Linked DNA regions of Homo sapiens: region 1 is linked to region 2. The links come from fine-mapping of genetic effects on gene expression. Tissue or cell type: nucleus accumbens. Region 2 holds a variant in brackets; the other region holds the start of a gene. All regions are shown on one strand. Distances are from middle to middle.

What was found. PIP is the estimated chance that this variant, and not a neighbour inherited with it, causes the effect.
Region 1: it holds the start of LINC03083, and the variant in region 2 is the best candidate, but not a certain one, in a credible set for the expression of LINC03083 in nucleus accumbens (GTEx, PIP 0.64).

What each region holds. Positions count from the first base shown.
Region 1 is chr20:20,968,487-20,973,869 of GRCh38, reverse strand. It overlaps LINC03083 (long intergenic non-protein coding RNA 3083), which reads right to left and starts at 3,422. Exons shown (of 2, transcript NR_186504.1): 1 at 3,322-3,422; 2 at 1,308-1,718.
Region 2 is chr20:20,937,523-20,942,905 of GRCh38, reverse strand. No RefSeq gene overlaps it. Among named protein-coding and RNA genes, the nearest start is that of LINC03083, 30 kb to the left of the region's middle. The variant G/C (reference allele first, on the strand shown) is at 2,977.

The DNA of each region.
Region 1 (5,383 bases), 31 kb before region 2:
GCTTTCTTAACTCCACTATTCGTAGGAAAGGCAGATTTAATTTACTAAGAGATAATATCAGTGTTTCATAACCATAGTTTTGTTAACATTCCCACACAGGTATAGTGATCCTGTGATATAAAGCGGTACAAAGACTTCCCAGAATGCTATCAGATCCAGCCAAAAAGAAAAGAGCCCGTCAATTTTGTGCAATGGGCTGGAGTTATGGAAGAACTCACTCCAGGCAGAGATTATGGCTCTGCGCTGATGGCCCATCCAGCGTGTGTTGTGCTCCATGATTAGATCCAATTGCTGTCTTCTCGGAATGAATCAGGAGCCACGGCTCATCTCAGGGAACCAGAGGGGAGGGCACCTTTCAGCTGAACAAGGGGAAAAGGGTCAGTTCACGGCCATTGTCCACAGTCCAGATAAGTTGCTAAAGCGTGACTCTTTGGCAGCGATCTCTGCTGACTTGGGGCTCAAGTGTCACTGTGGTCTGAGAGGCCTAAAGGAGGCCTGGATAATCAAAATTTCTGTCCCACCTTCAGTGAAAAGATTCTGTGAAAACTGAGTGGGATTTTGTTATTGAAAACATTCAGTCAGGGGGACTGTGTGAGATGGGCTTGTGCACCATTTCTGCCATTGTTGTGGCTTGAGCTGTTCTTTTCTTTTTTTTTTTTTTTTTTTTTGAGATGGAATTTTGCTCTTGTTGCCCAGGCTGGAGTGCAATGGTGCAGCCTCGGCTCACTGCAACCTCCTCCTCCCAGGTTCAAGCAATTCTCCTGTCTCAGCCTCCCTACTAGCTGGGATTACAGGCGCCCGCCACCAAGCCCGGCTAATTTTTGTATTTTTAGTAGAGATGGGGTTTCACCATGTTGGCCAGGCTGATCTCCATCTCCTGACCTCAGGCGATCCACCCGCCCCAGCCTCCCAAAGTGCAGGGATTATAGGCGTGAGCCACCATGCCCAGCCATGTCTTGAGCTTTTCAAGGGGGCGAAGGAGAGATCAGTAGAAAGGAAGGAAGGAAGGTGTCTGGGAAGGGGATTCTGGTGGGTACTTAGGGTGTAAAATTTGAAGAGACACTGGCTCTCTAGGCCTGGCCCTGGAATCTGGGGTCCAGTGGTAATGAAAAGCCTGTGAGACTGCCTAGGTTCAAGGCATGGCTCTATGGCCACTGGTGGAGTGAATATGGGCAAATTATTTTCAGGGCCTCAGTGACTCATCTGTAAAATGGGCCTAATGATAGCAGCATCTCATGGGGCTTGGGGGGAAATCAAATATTCGGTGCCTAGAATAGTATCTGGTAAATAGTGAATACTCAAATATTGTAGCTTAAATCATTTTATTACCATTATCCTTAAAGGCAATTTGAGGGACTAAAACAATTTGAGACACTAACATTTCTCAACTAACAAGAGGCAACAGAAATAAGAGGAGGGCCGTACCCCCGTAGGCTTGTAGTCAGCTGAGCTTCCTGGGAAACGGGAAAGACAAGCTGGCACCGGGGCAGGAACGGAAGCTCCTGTCTCTTCAGTACTTTTGTTCTACCTCACTCCGGCATTGGAAACCTGGTCACAAATGCCTTGTCATTTGCTGGGCTCTGCCTTCCTCCTCATCCATCAAGGGTTCTCCTTGGCTCTTCAATCCAGTGTTCTTAGACCTTTAAAACGCCTTTATTCTCCAGCCAGTGCTGTTGGCCTTTGAGATGTCATTACTGTGCACGTAGCGGCTCCGGTGCCTACACAGTGGGAAAAACCATCAAGAGTACACAGATAAACCCAGGCTGCCAACTTCACACACTCAGCAAGTCCCCTCTGTGGACAATTAGGGCCAAAAGACAAATATTGACACATTAGACTATTTCCTCATTTATTTTCTGTTGATTGTCTGGGCAATCTGATGGGGCAAAATTCCACTTTTCTGATAACTGATTCTTGGCTAATGGAAACAAATAAAGTAAAGGCTTCTGTCCACAATGGGTCGAGGCCCATTTTGCGGAACTGCTAATCGGATTAAATGGACTCCCAGCTCTATTTGCAGCCACCAAACTCCCTTGAACACTTTCCACATCTGAAGGGTACCCATCATGGTGGCTCTCTTGCTGTTGAAATCAAATGGAGAGGAGCACGCAAAGTCTTGAAACTGCAGCGAAGCCTTCTCCAAGCGAACAAAATACAGGGATGAGGAGAAATGCGTGCCGAGTCCTCCCAATTAAGTGGACAGACAGAGAAAGTGGTTCTGGCCAGCGAGCTGCAGAAATCTATTTTCCTCCTTATAAACACATTTTTCCCCTATTTTTCTTCTTCTTCTTTTTTTTTAAACTGATAATGAGAGTAGTGAACGTGTAAACTTCCACTACTGTGATCCTCATCTCCCGAAAAACCAGAAGTCCTGCAAAAGTCGTCCTCATCGAGCATTCTGGGGGGCAATGCATCTTTCTGATTTTGCCAATTTATCTAGAAAATATTACAATTTAATCTATGTTAATAAAAGACCAACAGGGTAACAATGCCTGGGGTTTTATGTGTCTGGCTGGCGTCTATTAGCATTTAAATCTGCATCCATTACGTTAGTCCCTTAAAATAAACACAAACATTTATGCGAGCGACAATTCGAGTTAGCCTTAGTCAGTCTTAAATAATGTCACTCAACTCGGTATTTGGACCGAAGCCTGTGAATCATGAGGTATATTTTTGCCTACAGTCTGATAATTTTCAAAGCTATTGGCAACCTGGGAATTTTCCTTCCTTATCACCAGGGCTCAGCTAACTTCACTAAGACTAATCAGGCTGGGAATCATTCATTCAAGGATTGCATGATCATGTTTTTCTTTAGCTGTGACAGCTGCCTCAGTCACATTAGCAATGCAGATTAGCCAGCCTAATAGGTTAATGCAGAACACACGAAAATTAGGTTTAATCCCCAGTGAAATAATCTAACATTTTCACATTTCTTGATGTTGGGATAGAGACATTGCTGGTGACTCAATTAGGTGTAATGTAGATCAAAGCAAATTTACCTTCTGGCTGAACCTTCCCAATAGTTTAGACAGAAGAATATAGCAAGGGCCCTCTACTAATTGGTGAATAGCTGTGGGGAAAATTGCATTAGGAACATGTAGGATGTGAGCAGAACTCTTCGGCCGAGGACAGACAATTGACGTATTTTGCAAATATCCACATCTCTCACTTTGCCATGCCTCCCAATGATGTTGCAGCTCAGCGCAGATGCAAACACCTTATGTACCAACCCATTCATCCTTTGGGCATAACTGCAATAAATGGGAACACACACACATACACACACACGCTCTCTCTCTCTCTCTCTCTCTCAATCCATACCTTTTTCACGTCCTGTCCAGGAGTATCACAATTGTGTTCTGAATGGGCCTGCATTGTGAGAGGAGCAGAAAGAGAACGAGAGGGTGTCTAATGTTTTCATTCTGGCGAATAGCATCTCAAACACCCATCTCTTTCAATCATAAAGGGAAGGACACAAAAAATTACATGCCCTCAGTTGCCAAATTATTTTTTGCCTTGACATCTTAATTCTTAATCCTTGTATGTGGTCAAATCAGTCTACTATAGGCAACCAATCAAGCAATTATTTCTAAATTATATTTGCCCAACTCACATTGATTGGCCATTCTTTTCTTACTGGGTTAGCTCATTAATTCTGAGCAGCTCGCTTATTATGCCTTCCACATCATTTTCCTTCCGAGCCTATCTGCTCCAGCCAGCCTGCTGATGTTTCAAGATGCCATACAGGGGAGGGGGAAAAAAGCAACCAGCGATCTACGCATTGTCTCCTCTAGCAATTACAATTCACATTGCTGATTAACTTTGATGTGAAAACTAATGAGATAAGACAAGTTATCAAGGCGGGCCTGATCATCATTCCATTTATACAGCATTTGCCACCGGTGAATGACAAAAAACTAATGAAGACATATCTGACAGCAGGCTGAGCGGAGGCAGGTTTCGGTTCCCCATCAGCCAGAGCTCGGCTCCCTTCTCATGGTCTATCTGAGACACGTTGGAATTAGCTTAATAATGAAAACACTTCATCTAAACGGACACATGTTTACATTAAAATAACTACATGATAAATAGATGGCGGAGATTTTATGCCTTCTTGAGTCTAAACAACAAAGTAAAAATGTGTTCTAGTATTCACTAAATCATTCGAAGGAAAATTCAATTTAAGCTATTATACTTATCACTAAGCGTCCCCCCCTGCTTATGGGTAACAAATGTTGGTTTTCAGAGGGTGGGGGAAGAGATGCGATCTGGGAAGAACAGGAGTGATTTACTTTGTGAAGATGGTAATGGCAGATAAACAGAAGTACAATATTGGTAAAGCTAATGAACATTGTTCACACAGTAATAACTTCGTGGTGGGGAAGATCCACTGGAATGGCATTCCCAGCTGTACATTTTTGTAAGTTCTCTTCATTTTCTGAACTCCAGCACTGAAGATCTCCGCTTTCAATTCACGTGTGAAGATGGTTCCATTCCTTTCTACACAAACATCTATGACTTTAGAAAAAACCCAAAGCATTTCCCTGGATATGTTTGTATATATTTTTTTCTAACGAATTAACGAGGCAAGGCAGATATTACACAGGAAATGTACATTTTCTTTGGATACAGTTTTTGGTGCTGAACATTAAATATTTTTAAAAAGTACATGCTTTATTTAGTTGGTTAAATAAAGTGGTTACATAGGAGCTGCAATAAAATTCATAAGTGTTCATATGGTTAAAAGGATTCGAGTTCATTTTTGCCTCTGCAACATCCTTGTTACATTAGCCTTATAAAAATGAAAGGAAGTCAAAGGCTGATTGTTTTTATAAATAACACTGCTTTCCCAATGAGTTATTTTGTTACTTTGATAAATCATTTCCTAAAACATAAAAAAAGAAAAAAAAAGTTCGTTTTCCTAGAAGCAGCTTTCTTCCTCATAACATATGCAAGTGTATTCTGTTTTTCATACATAAACATCATAGCATATTATTCCACTCAAATATCATGGGAAAAGCCAGAATAAAAAAGCAAAAATAAGTTCTGGCATTCCTTTTTTTAAAAATAGGTAGTAGTTTTTATTTTCTTTAGGCGAATATGATTAGAAATATTTTTAAGGCAACCGTCCACAGGTATTTCCAGTTATGTACTTTGAACTTTAAGAAACAGAAATACAAGAATAATATCAGCGACCATCATCAAAATCTCCCCCACCCTGTTGTTCTCCCAGCAGTCACAAACAAAAACAGCCACAAAACAAAACAAAAAATTAACACAAACCTATGTTTCTCGAGTGGCCATACTAAAGAAATCTACCGTTTCTGATGAAAGTTAACCGAAAGTACTGGTTTAAGGATGAAGAAACAAATTAGTACTCCAG
Region 2 (5,383 bases):
TCCTTTGTCCTCAGAGACTCTGGGAGTGAAGTTTGCTCAGGGCAGCCACTTCATTTTGCCTTTTGCCATCAGAACAGTTAGCTTGTTTCTTTCCATTTAAGGTGTCAGGCTTGGGTCAGACCAGTCCACTGTGTCTTCATGACTGCAGGAGACCTCATCATGCCCTCAACTTCTCTATAGGCACTATTCCTTTGACTTGAGATGAACAGAACATCTAAACCTTTCTATTCTGTGAGAGTACAGGACTCAGAGCAGAATCAATTCTTCCAAAAATTATCTTCTTTCTTCTCCGGTAGCCTCCAGTCCTTTTATTCCATTTCTGTGGGTGAACAATTAAGTCACAAAGCAAGCACGAGTCACTTCTTTCATAAAACCTATATCATGGACTTGCAACTTATTTGGAAGGAGCATCAATTGTCTTGGGCTGAGACCCGCTTGAACATCTTGTTAGATTCCATTTGAGCAGCAGAGATGGATTAAATAGTTAGCTAAAGGTAAATGCTGCAAGTGGAATTCCAGTCTGGACAGTCAAGATTCAAAATCCAGACTCTTTATCTTTGATTGAAAGTCTTAGAAATAAATTTTATTTCCCTCTCTATGTTTGTCTGTATATTATATATTTTCCTATATATATGTATGTATGCATCTGTATATGTACAATAATAGTTGTACAATAAGTAAAGTTATATTTTAAAGATTACGCAAGCAAAAGCATTCAGCGCAGTTTAGTGTGATGGGAAATTGCAGACAGGAATAGTGGATAAGAGGTTGTTTGAATAGTCAATAATTAACACTACAACAATATCAATCATAATAAAACTCACTCCCCCTCCCCTGCCTTTTCACAGAGCATGCCCAACAATGTCCTTACAGCAGATACAAACACAAGCATCATGAAGGTTTCCCCTATAATTTCCTCTGTGATACATTGATAGGGTCATGCCAAAACACAACCTGGTAGAAGCTGTTCTGAGAGAGCAAAAACAATTCAGTCCTAGGACACCAGCTCTCTGCCACCTGAGATTAATGCAGCGAGACATTTTACAGGACTCAGGCAATGGCTGGATGGCATAACTTTCAGACCGTCCTTTGTAAATATTGTTTCTTTTAATCAAGCCTTTGATAAATATTGAGTGGCAAGAAGTTCAAGGTTGCCCAGAGTAGTTAGAATGAAGCTATTCACTATGTTGGTTAATGCAGACTTCAGCAGGTAGTCCAGCTGGGAATGGGGCAGTTATGCTTCCAGGCAGTTTGACAGGCTTGACAAGGACACCTGGCTCTATGGTGGCAATCAATCACTGCCACAGTTATACTGTGTAACAAATCATCCCACAACCCATTGGCCTAAAACAAGGATCACATATTCCCAAAATGTCCAAAGTAGCTGGACTCCAATGTGTTTGGCTCTGAGCAGCCATTTGGGTCTACCTCTTCCCCACATCTTTCCTCCTTTACTGGATCAGTGGATTAGCCAGGATATGTTCTTGTGGCACTGGCAGAAACATAACAGGGCAAGACACAGCACAAGGATATTCCATGCCTTTGCTTCCATATTGTCCATTAATCTTCCACTGGTCAAGCCAAGTTTCATGGTCAAACCCAGTATCAATGGGGTGGGGAAGCCTACGCTTTTCACCATGGGAGGGAAGTCAGTAAACAATAGTCCAAATCATCACATTCTACTTAAGAAACAATTTGGGCACTTTGATGAGAATGTCTATAATTAAAAGAGAGTGACAACATCAAATAGGGATGAGAAAGTTGAATAACTGGAATTCTCCTATAACTTTTGTGGGAATATAAAATGCTACAACCACTTTGAAAAACAGTTGGCAGATTTTTAAAACATTAAAAAAGTGCCAGCAGCCTTCCACTCTTAGGCATTCAGCCAAATATATAGAAATGAAAAGATGTATATGCTCTTCAAGAAAAAGACTTGTATACGAATGTTCATAGTATCCTTATTCTTAATAGCTCCAAAGTAGAAACAACCCAAATGTCCATCAAGAGGGGAATGAATATTCAAAATGTGTTTTTTTTCATATGAGATACTACTCAGCAATGAAAGGAACAAATGATTGATATATACAATAAAATGGATAGATCTCAAAAACAACATGTTGAGCAAAGGGAACTAGACACTAAAGAATACATGCAATGTGAAAACATTGATATCAAGTTCAAGAACAAACAAAACTAATATAAGGTCATAGAGATTAGATCAATGGTTACCTTTGACTGGAAGGAGCATGAAAGAACTGTCTGGGGTAAGGAAAATGCTCTATATCTTGATAGGAATTTTGGTTATTGACAGTCATTGAATTGTTCACTTAAAATATGTATTTCACTGTATGTAAATTTATCTCACTTGAAACAAAAAATGGAATTTGGGGTTAGGTCTGGCACACAAAAAAGATTGGACTTCCAAGGCCATGCTTTTAGGCCATCATGGCTGACTTGCCCAGTGTCAACGTCAGCCACGATCAAACTCCTCAAGAAAATGCCCATAGGCTGGTTGATCTTGAGTAAATCATGCTTTTCAAGAAAAACTGGGTGTAAAAGGTTCTTCTAGGCAGCTGTCTTGGGTGGGATTTCTGGGAAAGCTGAGCCAGAGACAAGGACTTGAATGCAGATGGTTTATCTGGGAGGTGGGCCCAGGAAGCAGGAGTGAGGGAGCAGGGAAAGGAAGCAAGGGAAAGAAAAAACACCAGCATATGAGCTCATGCTGGAGGCAGCTGAGCCTGGGTTCCACCAGGAGCTCTGAGGACACTAAATTCCTCCCAGAATTGCCCAGAAAGAACCACAGAGTGGGGCTTTCTTTACAGCAACATAGGAATGGCCTAATACACATGAGAAGCCATACTGATAACATAAATAGTCCATTAACACAGATTTTATATGTTATAGATATTATGCACTATACTCTTAAAGCAAGCTAGACAGAAGAAAAAATCATGGGCCAGGTCCACTGGCTCG[G/C]ACTTGTAATCCCAGCACTTCGGGAGGCCAAGGTGGGTGGTTTGCTTGAGTCCAGGATTTCGAGACCATCCTGGGCAACACAGAAACCCGATCTCTATGAAAAATACAATAATTAGCTGGGCGGGGTGGTTCATACCTATGGTCCCAGCTACTTGGCAGGCTGAAGTGGGTGAATTGCTTGAACCCAGGAGGTTGAGGTTGCACTCCAGCCTGGGCAACAGTGCAAGACCCTGTCTCAAAAAAAAAGGAAAGAAAGAAAGAAGAAGGAAAGAAAGAGAGAAAGAGAAAGAAAGAAAGAGAAAGAAAGGAAGGAAGGAAGAGAAAGAAAGGAAGGAAAGAAAGAAAGAAAAAAGAAAGAAAGAAAAAGAAGGAAGGAAAGAAATAAAAAGAAAGAAAGAGAGAAAGAGAGAAAGAAGGAAGGAAAGAAAGAAAGAAAGAAAGAAAGAAAGAAAGAAAGAAAGAAAGAAAGAAAGAAAGAAAGAGAAAATCATAAGGCGATGGGTGCAGGTGTAATCCCAGCACTTTGGGAGGCTGAGGCTGGAGGATCCCTTGATCAGAAGTTTGAGGCTACAGTGAGCCATAATTGCATCACTGCACTTCTTAAAAAGAAAAGAAAATCATAAGGAAGAGAAAATATATTTATTATTCATGAAGTGGAAGTGGATCATCACTAAGATCTTCATCCTTGTGCAATGTCTTCACATTGAATAAGCTGAAAATGAGGAAGTGGGGGGTGTCTCAGGAGCGGCAGAAACAGAAGAAAATCTGCATATAAGTGGACCGATGCAGTTCAAGTTCACGTTGTTCAAGGATCAACTGTATAAACTTAATGCTTAATGTAAAATATTGCTTACTGCTCTGTATTTATTAAGTGGGAAGTTGGCAATAATCTGATTTATCCAAAAGTAACATTTAATCATTCAATGTATAAACTTAAGAGACGATGGGCAGTGGAGGGGGAGGGGCGGGAAGGCAGCAGGCACGTCTGTGGCCCCCTCTGCAAACCAGCTGCTGGAAGTGCTGGGGCTGACATCCATGCCCCACACAGATGCCCAGCTGCGGTGAGAATTGTCTTCTCACAGCAGAGAATGTCTTCCTTTTCTCCAGATAACTGTCCTCAGCAGATGGGACCGCCGTGCTTGGGAGATGACACCCATGGAGGCTCCTAGCCAACGACAGAGTGACATGAGTGTGTAGGAAGCTGGCTCACAGGCCTAAAAATGGACTGACTGTATGGCAGAATTCATTCTTCAGAGACCCTGTGGAGCCAGGCTGAGGCTAACCTTCCTCTGAGACCACATCCTTGCTTCCCTTTGCCCCTGCCCTCCCCTGATTCTCTCACCCTCCTTCTCTGGAAGGTACATCTTTAATCCATTGCTTGAACAAGAATCTCACCTCAGGCTCTACTTCTAGAGAACTTGACCCAACACAAAGGGTATTCTGGGTTGAATTGTGTCCCCACAAAAGATACGCTGAAGTCCTACCCCTCAGAACCTGCGAATGTGACCTTAGTAGGAATAGGGTCTCTGCAGAGGTAACTGAGTTAAGATGAGATCATTAGGGTGGGCCCTAGTCCAGCATAACTGGTGTTCTTATAAGAAGAAGAGAATGCCATGTGAGGACTGAGACCCGCAGAGAGAAGGCCGTCATGGGACAACAAGGCAAAAATCGTGGCGATGCCTCTACACACCAAGCAACACCAGGGACTGCCGGCCACCAGAGCCAGGAAGGGGCCAGGAAGGATCCTCCCAGAATCTTGGGGGAAGCATGGCCTGTTGCCTCTGTGATTTTAGACTTCTGGCCTCCAGAAATGTGAGAGAATACATTCCTGTTGTTTTAAGCTACCCTGTGGTATTTAGTTATTGGCTGCCCTAAAAATCTAATACGGGCAGTTGGTCCAGCCCTGACGTCTGGGGTCATTGTAAGGCTCTGCTTCCACGTGAGCTTCACGAACAAAGGGAAGGGGGTGCTGGACATGAGCAGTCAGCCCCAAAATCGTGGCTGTCCACGGTCTTTAGTCACGGGGTGAGTGGGGTCATCAGACTAGGAAGAAATGTCGTTTTTGAGTAGTCAAGGAAACTTCATAGTGGGAGAGAGTTTGGGGTCCTCTGAGTCCCCCAGTGCTATAGCTTCCTTCCACTTTTCTGGGCCCTTATTCTTTCCTGATCCGGGGATGTAAGACTATTTCCTCTGCCTACTTCTCCATCCAATCTCCATCCACTCTCCATCTTCATTTTTATCCATTATGTATTTAAGAGTAAACCCCCCTTCCATGAAAAATCAGAGGGAAAGTGTAGAATTGAATGCCCACCAGCCTGAAGAGATAGTTCTACTTCCATAGAGGACAGCTCAGAGTCACCAGTATTTACTGCTGGGATTTGCTTTATTTCGATTATATCCACCCTCA